4 separate regions of the Homo sapiens genome follow, and regions 1, 2 and 3 are each linked to region 4. Evidence: fine-mapped expression QTL. A gene starts in region 4. Each other region holds a variant in brackets. All regions are shown on one strand. Distances are from middle to middle.

Region 1 (2,686 bases), 47 kb before region 4:
GGGAAGGTTGCTTGAGCCTGGGAGAACAAAGCTGCAATGAGCTGTGATAGCACCACTGCACTCCAGCCTGGGTGGCAGAGCCAAACCTTATCTCAAAAATAAAAATAAAAATAAAGAAAGACAGATCATGTCTTTGACTTGCTTGCTAAGAACTCTCATTGCACTGAAAATAAAACGCAATATCCTTCTACGGCTTTCAAGACTCTTCATGATCAATTTCTTGTACCACTGTTTCAACAGTTCACTAACTGCCTGTGATCCCAGCATTTTGGAAGGCCAAGGCAGGCAGATCACTTGAGCCCAGGAGTTTGAGACCAGCCTGGGCAACATGGTGAAACCCCACCTCTAAAAAAAAAATACAGGAATTAGTTGAGTGTGGTAGCACACACCTGTAGTCCCAGCTACTCAGGAGGCTAAGGTGGGAGGATGGCTTGAGCTTGGGAGGCAGAGATTGTAGTGAGCTGAGATCATGCCACTGCACTCCAGCCTGGGCGACAGAGTGAGACTCTGCCTCAAAAAAAAAAAAAAAAAAGAAACTTCCATCAGTAGTTCTTCCAGTGAGGTTTTGTGAGGGGTGACCTCTCTTGGTGTCTACGTCTAAAGATGTTTTTATTACACCTTATACCTTGGGTAGAATTCACAGGTAAGGAATTCTGGTTTGTGGTTATTTTCTCTCAGCAGTTTGAAGATACCATTTAGGTCACTGAAGGCATCTATTATTGCAGGTAAGTCTGCTGTAAGTTGAAGTATTATTGGTTTTTGTTTGTTCGTTTGTTTTGTTTTGAGATGGAGTTTCGCTCTTGTTGCCCAAGCTGGAGTGCAATGCTGTGATCTCGGCTCACTGCAACCGCCACCTCCTGGGTTCAAGCGATTCTCCTGCCTCAGCCTCCAGGGTAGCTGGGATTACAGGCATGCACCACCACACCCAGCTGATTTTGTATTTTTAGCAGAATCGGGGTTTCACCATGTTGGTCAAGCTGGTCTCGAACTCCTGACCTCAGGTGATCCACCTGCCTTGGGCTCCCAAAGTGCTGGGATTATAGGCGTGAGCCACCGCACCCGGCCCAGTATTATTGGTTTTTAGATTACTATCTTTCTAGCGGTGTGGAAGATTTTCTCTATGCTTTTGATGTTCTGCTATTGTACTCCGCTGCGTCTGTGTGGATTTACTTATAACTCTTTGGCTTAAGACTTGGTGTGCCCTCTCAATTTAAATGCTCATCTATTCTTT[G/A]TTTTTCTTTTTATTACCATGGCCATGTCCTACATTCAAAAGACTGCATGAAGTGTATATATGTAGATTTAAGGGTAATAAAATAAGCACATGTGTATTCACCAACCAGCTTAAGAAACAGACCTTTACCAGCATCTTAGAAGCCCATGTGTGTTCTCCCCTGAGCACAGCCCTGTCCTCCTCCAAGAGGTACCTGCATACTGAACTTTATATCAATCATTTTTTGCGTTTTTTGAAGAGTATTTCACAATTGTATGCATTTCTACACAACATGTTGTTTAATTTTGCTTTTTTTTTCTACTGTATACTCCTAGAATCATACATTGCTCTATATTTTTGTGACTTACTTTTTTCATTCAACATTATGACTTTGAGATACATCCATGTTGATACAAGCAACTGTAGTTTATTTATTTTTATATATTTACTTTTTTTAGACAGTGTCTCACTCTGTTGCACAGGCTGGCATTCAGTGATGCAGTCATAGCTTACTGCAGCCTCAAACTCCTGGACTCAAGCAATCCTCCCACCCCAGGCTAAGTAGCTGGGACTATCGGCACACACCACCATGCTTGGCATTTTTTTTTTTTTTTAATTTTTAGTAGAGATGTGGTCTTGCTATGTTGCCCAGGCTGGTTTCAAACTTCTAAGCTCAAACAATCCTCCTGCCTTGGCCTCCTAAAGTGCTGAGATTACAGGCATCAGCCACTGTGCCCAGCCTGTACTTAATTTATTTTTTGCTGTTGTATAGTACTCCATTATATAAATATACCAGAAAATTAATATTTGTGGAGTGAATGGATAAGTGAACACATCCATCATCATACAAAGCCCCATTTCTGACAACAGAATTTTGCTCTGGACATAAACATTTGCTCTCTTCCAGTCGTTGCCCCTAACACATCTTCTCCATCACATCCCAACACTGTTCTTCAGCTGAGGGCTGGCCCTGCCCCTCTCCACTGTACTAAATCCTGGGGTTTATTTCATTCTAAATCTAAGTTACCCTTCTTCGGGACATCTTCTGCGGTTAATCAATCAACCAGTCAATTACTTTTGGAGGCAAAAAAGACTTTAAAGGGCATGTAACTGGATGCCGATCTACTATGATGTCCTCTGGCAAGTGGACAGCCAGGTGTGTGAGCACATCTAGTGTGGAGGAACCCACTGCTTCATGAGAACACCCATTCCACTGGCCATTGTAACTTTCAAAGTTCTTCTTTCTCTTGAGCTGAAACTCATTCCCTGTAACTCTCACCCATGGATCGTTGTTCTGCATTCTGGAGAGACAAACAAGAAACCTAGCTCCCTTTCCCCATCCTCCCCACCAGTGCCTGCAAAGCATTTGCTGGTTCCCTTTGCCCCACTTATCACCCACCCTCTACACCCTCACCACAGGTTCTTCTTTTTTCAAAGTTGACCATTCTCAATTCCTTGTATCATCTCTTGTTTAAT
Region 2 (2,686 bases), 26 kb before region 4:
CAAGTGCCCAGATACTTAATGCTTCTCAGTCTCAATATTCCCACTTCTGAATGCACCTAAAAGCCAAGGGAAGACCATTGGGTTGTGGGAGCAAAGGGAAAATTTTCCTTTGTTCTCTGAAGGTTTGCTGAAAAATCAACTGACAAAAGGTGATTAACAGGAAACAGGCATGTAAAATGTATTTACATGCATGTGTGCCCACAGGAGTCATACACAATATGAACTCAAAGAGGGCCGGATGGTTGAGGCCTAAGTACTCTCTTCATAGGGAAGAGACTTAAGGACCTGGGAGGTGGGAGGCAGGCATTAGGGAAGGTGAGGGATGGGGCTGCACAGGAACAAAAGGTGTCTTATGCAGACAAAATCTCCCAAGTCATCTCTTGGAGCTGGCCTCAAAGGAATAGATGAAAAATCTGTCTGGGTGTGTTGATAACACCCAGCCTCTTCTCTTTCAGTTTATTTTTCCTGGTTACTTGATGGGATCCCTAGGCAGGAGGTCTTAAAACAATTTCATATCCTTTGGAAAGAAGCTTTATTGGCCAGATAAGGAAATTTCAGAGAGCTCTTCTCTGCACTTGATGTAGGTAGGGGGAAGAGGACAAGGTAAGGTTACAGGGACCTTGATTCTTGGGCAGCTTCTAAGTCCTCTCCGCATATCAAAGTGCCAGACTTTGGGGTATTGCTTTCTGAACCCCAGTGGGGGCCTCACAGGGGTCGCTTTCTCCATGTGGGGCTTGGCAGGAAAAGGCTTAAATGGCTTGGGAGACAACAGAGCGTAGTTAGCCTCAGGTGGGGACCAAAATGTCGTGTTCACTACTGTACCTCCCCGTTGGCATAGCGTCAGACAGATGCTACAAATATTTGTTGAGTGGAAGGAAGAGAAAGAGGAAAGAAAGGAGAGAGAGATAGGGAGGATGGGAGGGAGGAAAGGAGAGAGAGAACAAGGAACAATCTTGATCAAATCCTAGCTGTTTACTAAATGTATGACCTTGAGCAAATAACTCAGCCTCCTTGTCCCTGGACCTCAATATCCTTATCCATAAAATGAGGCGCTCTCCCCAGGTCGTTGTGAGGATTGAATGAGACCATATATGTAAAATGCTTAGCAAAGGGCCTGATTCATAACAAGTGGCCCATAAGTGCTACTGTGATGACTATACTCTCCAGGGTCATACAGCCGGTGAGGAGCTGAGGCTACAAATATCCAAGGTCTTTCTCTCTGCTGTTGGAAGCTCCCCTGGCATACCCTGGGTTCTCACTGCCCTAAGAGCCCTTTCCCCTCTGGTGAGCACAAGTTCTGTACTGAAAACTGCCAGCCCCATTGTTTCCGTGAGCTTGAAAACCTCTTCGGAGCAGCAGGCTCTGATACATGCAAAGAAGGAGCAGACAGAACCATTAAGACACACTCAGCCTGAATCACTGTCCTCCTCAGCAGGGCTTTGC[G/A]GCAGCCTGAGGAGATACTGTTCTCAGCCACTGGACCAGATTGCTCAGGGAGCAGGAGGATGCAGGAAGCACAGGCCACCCGCTCCTGCTGTTACTGACCTAGTTTGGACCGCTTTGCTGGGAATGTGAAGCCAAACCAGATGGAGGGACACCAGGAACCGCTGATGCTAGCTGGAGGGATAGGAGCTCGGGCTCCAGGGAGCTCAGACTTCGGGGCATTCCAGGGCTTGATTTGGGGCACAGAGTGCTCACTTGGTGGGGGGGGATGGCAGTCGTCTTAGTCAGCCCGGCTGCTATAACAAAACACAACAGACCAGGCGGCTTACATAACAGTAGTTTCTTGCCATTCTGGTTACTGGGACATCCAAGCTCAAGGCTCTGGCAGATTCGATGTCTGGGGAGGGTCTTCCTCCTGTTTCCTGGATTATACCTCCTCACCGTGTCCTCACGGGGCAAAGAGAGGAAGCCAGCTCTCTGGTGTCCCTTCCTATAAGGACACCAATCCCGCTATGAGGGCCCCACCCTCAGGACCCCATCTAATTCTAATCACCTCTAAAGGCCCCACCTCCCAATACCATCACATTAGTGGGGAAGGTTTTGAATTATGAATTTTGGAAGGACACAATGGTTCTGTCCCTGTGGCAGGTAACAACCTTCCTGGCCTCCATGTGGTCTTGACCATCCTGACCACAGACAGAGGCCTCTCAGTGAGGGGCAGTTATGGCATAGTAGCAAAGAGAGCAGAGCCTGCAGCCAGACTGCCTGGGTGTGAAGGTTGAGTCTGCCTCTTGACAGCTGTGTAATCTTGGGCCAGCGATATAACTTCTCCACACCTCAGTCTCTGCATCTGTAAAGTGCAGGTGACAATAACAGGACTTAACGTCATAAGGGTGTTAGATGTGAATCCATGTACAGCATTTACATAGAAAGGTGCCTGGATCATCATCAGCACTGCATAAGTGGTTGCTGTCAAAATCTTACTATGTCACCAGATAAGCCAGTTTAATGCTGGTGACGGGACAACCAAGGGCACAGAGTTCTTAATGTTTGCCCAAGGCTTGGGAGAGCGTAGGAGTGGTGACTGAAAGAAGGCTCTCATCTCTGTGCTCCCTCATCCTTACTATGAGACCCTGCACGTGGCACCTCATCTTTCTGAGCCCCAGTTTCCTCCTGAAAATGAAAATAATAGCTTCACTCTGCCTAAATCGCAGGGTTCTTTGATGACTAAATGAGTTAGCATTCA
Region 3 (2,686 bases), 65 kb after region 4:
AACCTCCACTTTCCGGGTTCAAGTGATTTTCCTGCCTCAGCCTCCTGAGTAGCTGGGATTACAGGTGTCTGCCACCACGCCTGGCTAATTTTTGTATCTTTAGTAGAGACGGGGTTTCACCATGTTGGCCAGGCTAGTCTTGAACTCCTGACCTCAAGTGATCCTCCCACCTTGGCCTCCCAAAGGCGAGAGCCACCGCACCTGGCCTCATTCCTTTTTTATTCTGGGTAATTTTAACATATCATCTGACTGACAAGCTACTGCTAATAAAATATAAACTGAAAATAGATTTTTTTCTTCCTTGTCTAGACTATTTAATTTTGTTCTTCTTTGCTATTGTCTAGTTCTAGAAAAAGCGCTTAGTGTGAAATTTGTGGGAAAGATGCTGTTCAGAGTTTAATTTCATTATGTAGTTAACCAATGAAAATCCAGCGGAAAAAAAAGGTAAACATTTTTAGGAGATGGTAAAAACTATTTAAAAAATGGAAAGTTCATAGACATAATTTTTCTGAAATAGAACATTCAGTCAATAGAGTTGAAAACTGAATAAATGAATACATGATTGAATGGTTGATTCAAATGCATCATTAATTAATTGGAAATAATTGACTGTGTCACTTGGTCCTAAAAATATTCCTCTAAGAAATCATTAGCATTATCTGGAAAACTTTAAAAAGTGATACCCAAAGCCCAGTTTAATTGAATCAGAATCTCTGGAGGAAGGGCTTAGCCATTATTATTATTATTTTTTTTTTTTCTGAGATGGAGTTTCACTCTTGTTGCCCAGGCTTGAGTGCAATGGTGCGATCTCAGTTCACTGCAACCTCCACCTCCCAGGTTTAAGTGATTCTTCTGCCTCAGCCTCCCGAGTAGCTGGGGTTACAGGCGCATGCCACCGTACCTGGCTAATTTTTGTATTTGTTGTAGAGATGAGGTTTCACCATGTTGTTGCACAGGCTGGTCTCGAACTCCTGAGCTCAAGTGATCCGCCTGCCTCTGCCTCCCAAAGGGCAGAGATTACAGGCATGAGCCACTGCACATGGCCCTTTTAGACCTCTTTTAATCTTTGGGTTTCTTCAAAACCATTTGCTTCCCTTGCAATTTATTTTTGGGATAAACCAGTTGATACTGTAGGGCTTCCCACAGTTTAGATTTTGCTGATTATAACTTTATGGTGTTATTTAACATGTTCCTTTGTCCCCTCTATTCCGCATAGATTGTTCGTCTGGTAAGGATATAATAAACTTATTAAATGTTAGCCCATTGTGTCATTCCTCCTTAGTAGGGGTTAAGAATTATGCTGCCTTCAGGAAGGGGTCTGCATGTTGAGGTTGCCCAGGTCTGAGTGCAACTAGGATATACAATGGGAGTTGAGATCATCATTGTGGGGCAGGATAGTGTAGAAAATGGCAGGGAAGCTGCTCTTTGCCTCACCTCCTCACAGCCTCTGTTCTTGACATCTGCCTCTCTCTTAGAGTGGTGTGGAACATGTCTCTTCTCTGAACTCCCTCTCCTTTAGTCCTGTCACACTGAAGACATTGCTGGAGGCATTTCTGCCACCTGGGTGAATCAAAGAACCA[A/G]CTAATTTGTGAGGATGTGTAGAGGAGGCATTCCTAACTTTCCACTTATCTGTTAAGACCCAGTTGAAATCTTTCATCTTGGAGCGGGGGACAGTGATCCTGTTCCCCCGTGCCCACCCCCATCTGGAAGCACAGCTGATCACTTTCTCCTTGGTAGAACAGCATGCCTCACATATACCCCTGTTATGCATTTTGTTACATGTCATTTGAATTATGTATCTCTCTACGTAATTGTTTCAACTATAAGATGCACAAATTCCTTGAGGTTGAGAACCAGGTCTTCTTTATTTTTTTAACCCCAGGGCCATGCACAGGCCCTGGTTGTATCTGGCACGTTCCTGGCAGGAAGCAGATGATGCCTTCAAACTGGGTAATCAAGGGCAGTTTAACAATATTATAGGCCATGTGCATTGCTTACGCCTGTAATCCCGGCACTTTCGGAGGCTGAGGCAGGAGGATCACTTGAGCCCAGGAGTTCCAGGCTGCAGTGAGCTGTGATCATGCCACTGCACTCCAGCCTGGGTGACAGAGTGAGACCTTGTCTCAAAAAAAAGAAAAACAGAAAACCCCAAAGGTACTATTACAAAAGTGTAGGCAGGGTTCTGTGAAAGTAACAGGGAATGGTGTGGTATACCCAAGTTAATAACGGAATGGTGGAGGGGCAAATGGAGAGAATGGTCACCAAAACCCAGGGAAAAGCTTTTAGTAGAGGACACAGTCAATCCGTAGTGACCCAGCAAGGGAGGAATTGGAAATAGTGACCTCAACTTCGTTTTTCTCCATCCTTTGATCTCCTGCCCATGTTTTCTATTGGCTGAATCTAACCAGAATGCAGAGGGCAAGAGAGCCCATTGCTGCGGTCCATACAGGTCTGCCTCCCTGGTCTGAAGACAGCTAGATGGGGCAAATGGAAGTTATCCAGTATGGGATCCCCTCAAGCATTCACCCTTATCCTTTTGCCAGGTGAAATACTTATGTTCCCAGCAGAGGGCACCCACAAAATTCCTATTAACTGCTGTACCATTGCATGATGACTTCAATTCAGTCATAGTCTAACCTCGAGTCTAAAATGGTAGCCATTGCCAGTGCCCATCATTGAAGGTATG
Region 4 (2,686 bases):
AAGTCAGGTGCTTAACAAGAGGAGGCTGCTTCTAACCATGCCTCCCCCTTAGAGAGTTTCTAACACCCCAACCACTGGCCCCACCTGTGGACAGCCCATTCCTCCCTCTAAACGCACAGGTCGGTTTAGATGCCTTGCTCAGACCCCTGCGCCCAGCATGGGCGCCCTACGTGCTGTGCCCACTGGGGTGGTCTCACGGGTGGGGGTGAGCTGTTTGCCCCTGGCGGTTCTTACCTGGACGCCCCCGGGAGTATCCTGGATCTGCAGGGAGAGCTGGTCCCCCTCGACATAGACCAGCCGTGAATACAGCTTGCCTGGAGAATGAAGTAGAGTTTGCTTTTTAATTCTCAAACTCCCATCCGTAAAAAGAAACACGCAAGCATAAAAGCAGGGAGCGTGAAAGTATTCTCACCTGTATTCGGTTCATAGTCTCCAATGAATCTCTTGGTCAGGAAGCGCACGATCATTGCTGAAAAGGAAATAGGAAAATCAACCGAAGGAGTAGAACAAGCCTGTCAAACCCAGGCACCTCGGACAAACTGGGGGGAGTGAAGGGTGCAGAACCGTGGGCACTGCTCGCTTCCAGAGGCTCCGCAAAGCCGTGGTGCCGCGGGCTTGGCCGCGAGTACGACTGGCGGGACACCTCTCCCGCACCCCATCCCCGAACAGGCGCCAATCCCGCCGAGATCCCAGGAGTAGATGCACCAGGAAACGCCAGGGAAGCAGGCCGGGACGGACCGGGACCCACCCAGCGCGAAAGCAGCCCGATTCTACCTGCACCCGCGCCCTCTGCTTCGGCCGAGGCGCCCTCTCTCCGCAGCGCCCCCAGTGGTCGCGGCCGGAGCCGGGGAGCGAAGCCGCCCGGGGGTCCCCGCCGCACTCACCGCTCTTGCCCACGCGGCCGGCGCCCAGCACCGCCAGTTTGATGTCCTTGGGCAGTAGGTAGTCCGAGGAGGACTCGGGGATGGGTGCGAGCAGAAAGTGCCCGGACATGCTGAGCGGCCGCATGGAGCGCGTCCCGGGGTCCGGCGCGCAATCCGAGAGGGCTGGGCCTCGCCGCACCCGGAGCCGGCTCGCCAGCTGGGAGTGCGGGACTAGAGGTCCGGGACCGCGGCGGCTGCCTGCAGAACTGTCAAGGCCCGCGGCTTTTAAAGGGCTTGGTGCGCCCGGGAGCGCGGCGGCCGTCCCAGCTCCTCCTCGTCTCCGCCCCTTCCCGGAGCGGCCGGGAGGGGCGGGAGCAGAGGCCGCGGAGCTGACTATCGCCGAGGCTGTGCGCTTCGCCGGGCTGCTAGCTGCTCGCGGCTCCAGGCGCTCTGCGGCAGGACTGCGGCTCCGGGGCTCAGACCCTGGAGATACGGCCACCGTCCAGAGCGCGCGAGTGGCCTCTAGTCAGGCATTCTGCGAGTCTCCTCGCCCCGCAGCAGCCAGCCGGAGTCACTAGACCTGTGGGTGAACTTGAGATAGGAGTTACGAGTTGACGAGAGAAGAAGAAAAAGTGCAATCAGTTGGATGTTTCTGCAACAATGGGACAGATTGCTGTAAAACGCTGCCCTTTTTATTTTTAAAAGGTGCTAAGGGGCTGGGCGCGGTGGCTTACGCCTGTAATCCCAGCACTTTGGGAGGCCCAGGTGGGCAAGATCATCTGCGGTCAGGAGTTCAAGACCAGCCTGGCCAACATGGCGAAACGCTGTCTCTACTAAAAATACAAAAATTAGCGGGGCGTGGTGGTGGGCGCCTGTAATCCCAACTACTCGGGAGGCTGAGGCAGCAGAATCGCTTGAACTAGGGAGGCGGAGGTTGCAGTGAGCCGAGATGGCACCACTGCACTCCAGCCTGGACCACAAGAGCGAAACTCCGTCTCAAAAAAAAAAAAAAAAGAAAGAAAAGAAAAGATGCTAAGGGGTAACATTAATATGGGAAAAGGGCGGGGGGCGGGGGGCAAGAGCTCTGAATTAGTATCAGTGGAGGCAACTGCAGTCACTGTGACCTTGCTAGGGATAGATGAAGTCCCCTTAGGGGCAGTGATGGTTAGCATCTCAGTATCCATGCCCAGCCCCTCCTCTGCAGGCAGGGGTTGCACTGGCTCATTCCTGAACACTCATGAGCACTCCACTGGCTGGGGGCCCTGGCCCTGCACTAAGTGTCCATCATTAATACTATCCTATGTGCTTGAGTCATGCATTTGCTTCAGTATCCAAATATTTACTTCTAGGTGCATGGTGGGGTCTAGGGTGGGGTGGGGGGCAGTGTGAGGAACAGGACACAGAGCTATAGACTGGTTCTTGGATTTCTGGAGCCCACCAGAAATAGCACAGCAGAAGCCTCAGGACTTTAACCTTGAACAGTTAGAAGACCTTCATGCCTCTGACCTCCTGTGTTCCAGCCTCACTTGCCTAATCGCCTATTAGACAGCCCCACCCTAATTCATACCTTTCTCTACCCTGGTTGTACCAGTTTTTGCTGCATGACAAGCCACACCAAACTAGATGGCTTAGAACAACAATCACTTACAGTTGTTGAGCCCTTTGATGCATCTGCAGGGAGCTTCCAGGTTCTGGAAGTGGGGGCTGGCTGCCCTTGGATAGCCTTACTCATGTCTGGCAGCTGTTGGCTGTGATGAGGGAGGGTAGTGACTGAGTTACATGTCTCTTCTCATTCAGCACGTTGGCCAGGGCCTGCCTTCATG

Which allele goes with the higher level. Positions count from the first base shown, and alleles are read on the strand shown. Sizes are in standard deviations (SD) of each study's normalised expression. Not every link is listed here.
For the expression in cerebellum of the gene that starts at base 1,123 in region 4, A is the low allele of the variant in region 2 and G is the other (large effect, 1.1 SD a copy in GTEx).

Evidence for each region. PIP is the estimated chance that this variant, and not a neighbour inherited with it, causes the effect.
Region 1: its variant is fine-mapped to the expression of RASL11A in whole blood (INTERVAL, PIP above 0.99).
Region 2: its variant is fine-mapped to the expression of RASL11A in cerebellum (GTEx, PIP above 0.99). The same link has a PIP of 0.9 or more in cerebellar hemisphere.
Region 3: its variant is fine-mapped to the expression of RASL11A in whole blood (TOPMed, PIP above 0.99).

The regions. Positions count from the first base shown.
Region 1 is chr13:27,316,528-27,319,213 of GRCh38, reverse strand. No RefSeq gene overlaps it. Among named protein-coding and RNA genes, the nearest start is that of RASL11A, 47 kb to the right of the region's middle. The variant G/A (reference allele first, on the strand shown) is at 1,232.
Region 2 is chr13:27,295,518-27,298,203 of GRCh38, reverse strand. No RefSeq gene overlaps it. Among named protein-coding and RNA genes, the nearest start is that of RASL11A, 26 kb to the right of the region's middle. The variant G/A (reference allele first, on the strand shown) is at 1,444.
Region 3 is chr13:27,203,972-27,206,657 of GRCh38, reverse strand. No RefSeq gene overlaps it. Among named protein-coding and RNA genes, the nearest start is that of LINC00412, 32 kb to the left of the region's middle. The variant A/G (reference allele first, on the strand shown) is at 1,581.
Region 4 is chr13:27,269,267-27,271,952 of GRCh38, reverse strand. It overlaps RASL11A (RAS like family 11 member A), which reads right to left and starts at 1,123. Exons shown (of 4, transcript NM_206827.2): 1 at 885-1,123; 2 at 413-469; 3 at 235-314. The coding sequence starts at 1,008. RefSeq lists silencers at 723-952, 993-1,212 and an enhancer at 1,161-1,661.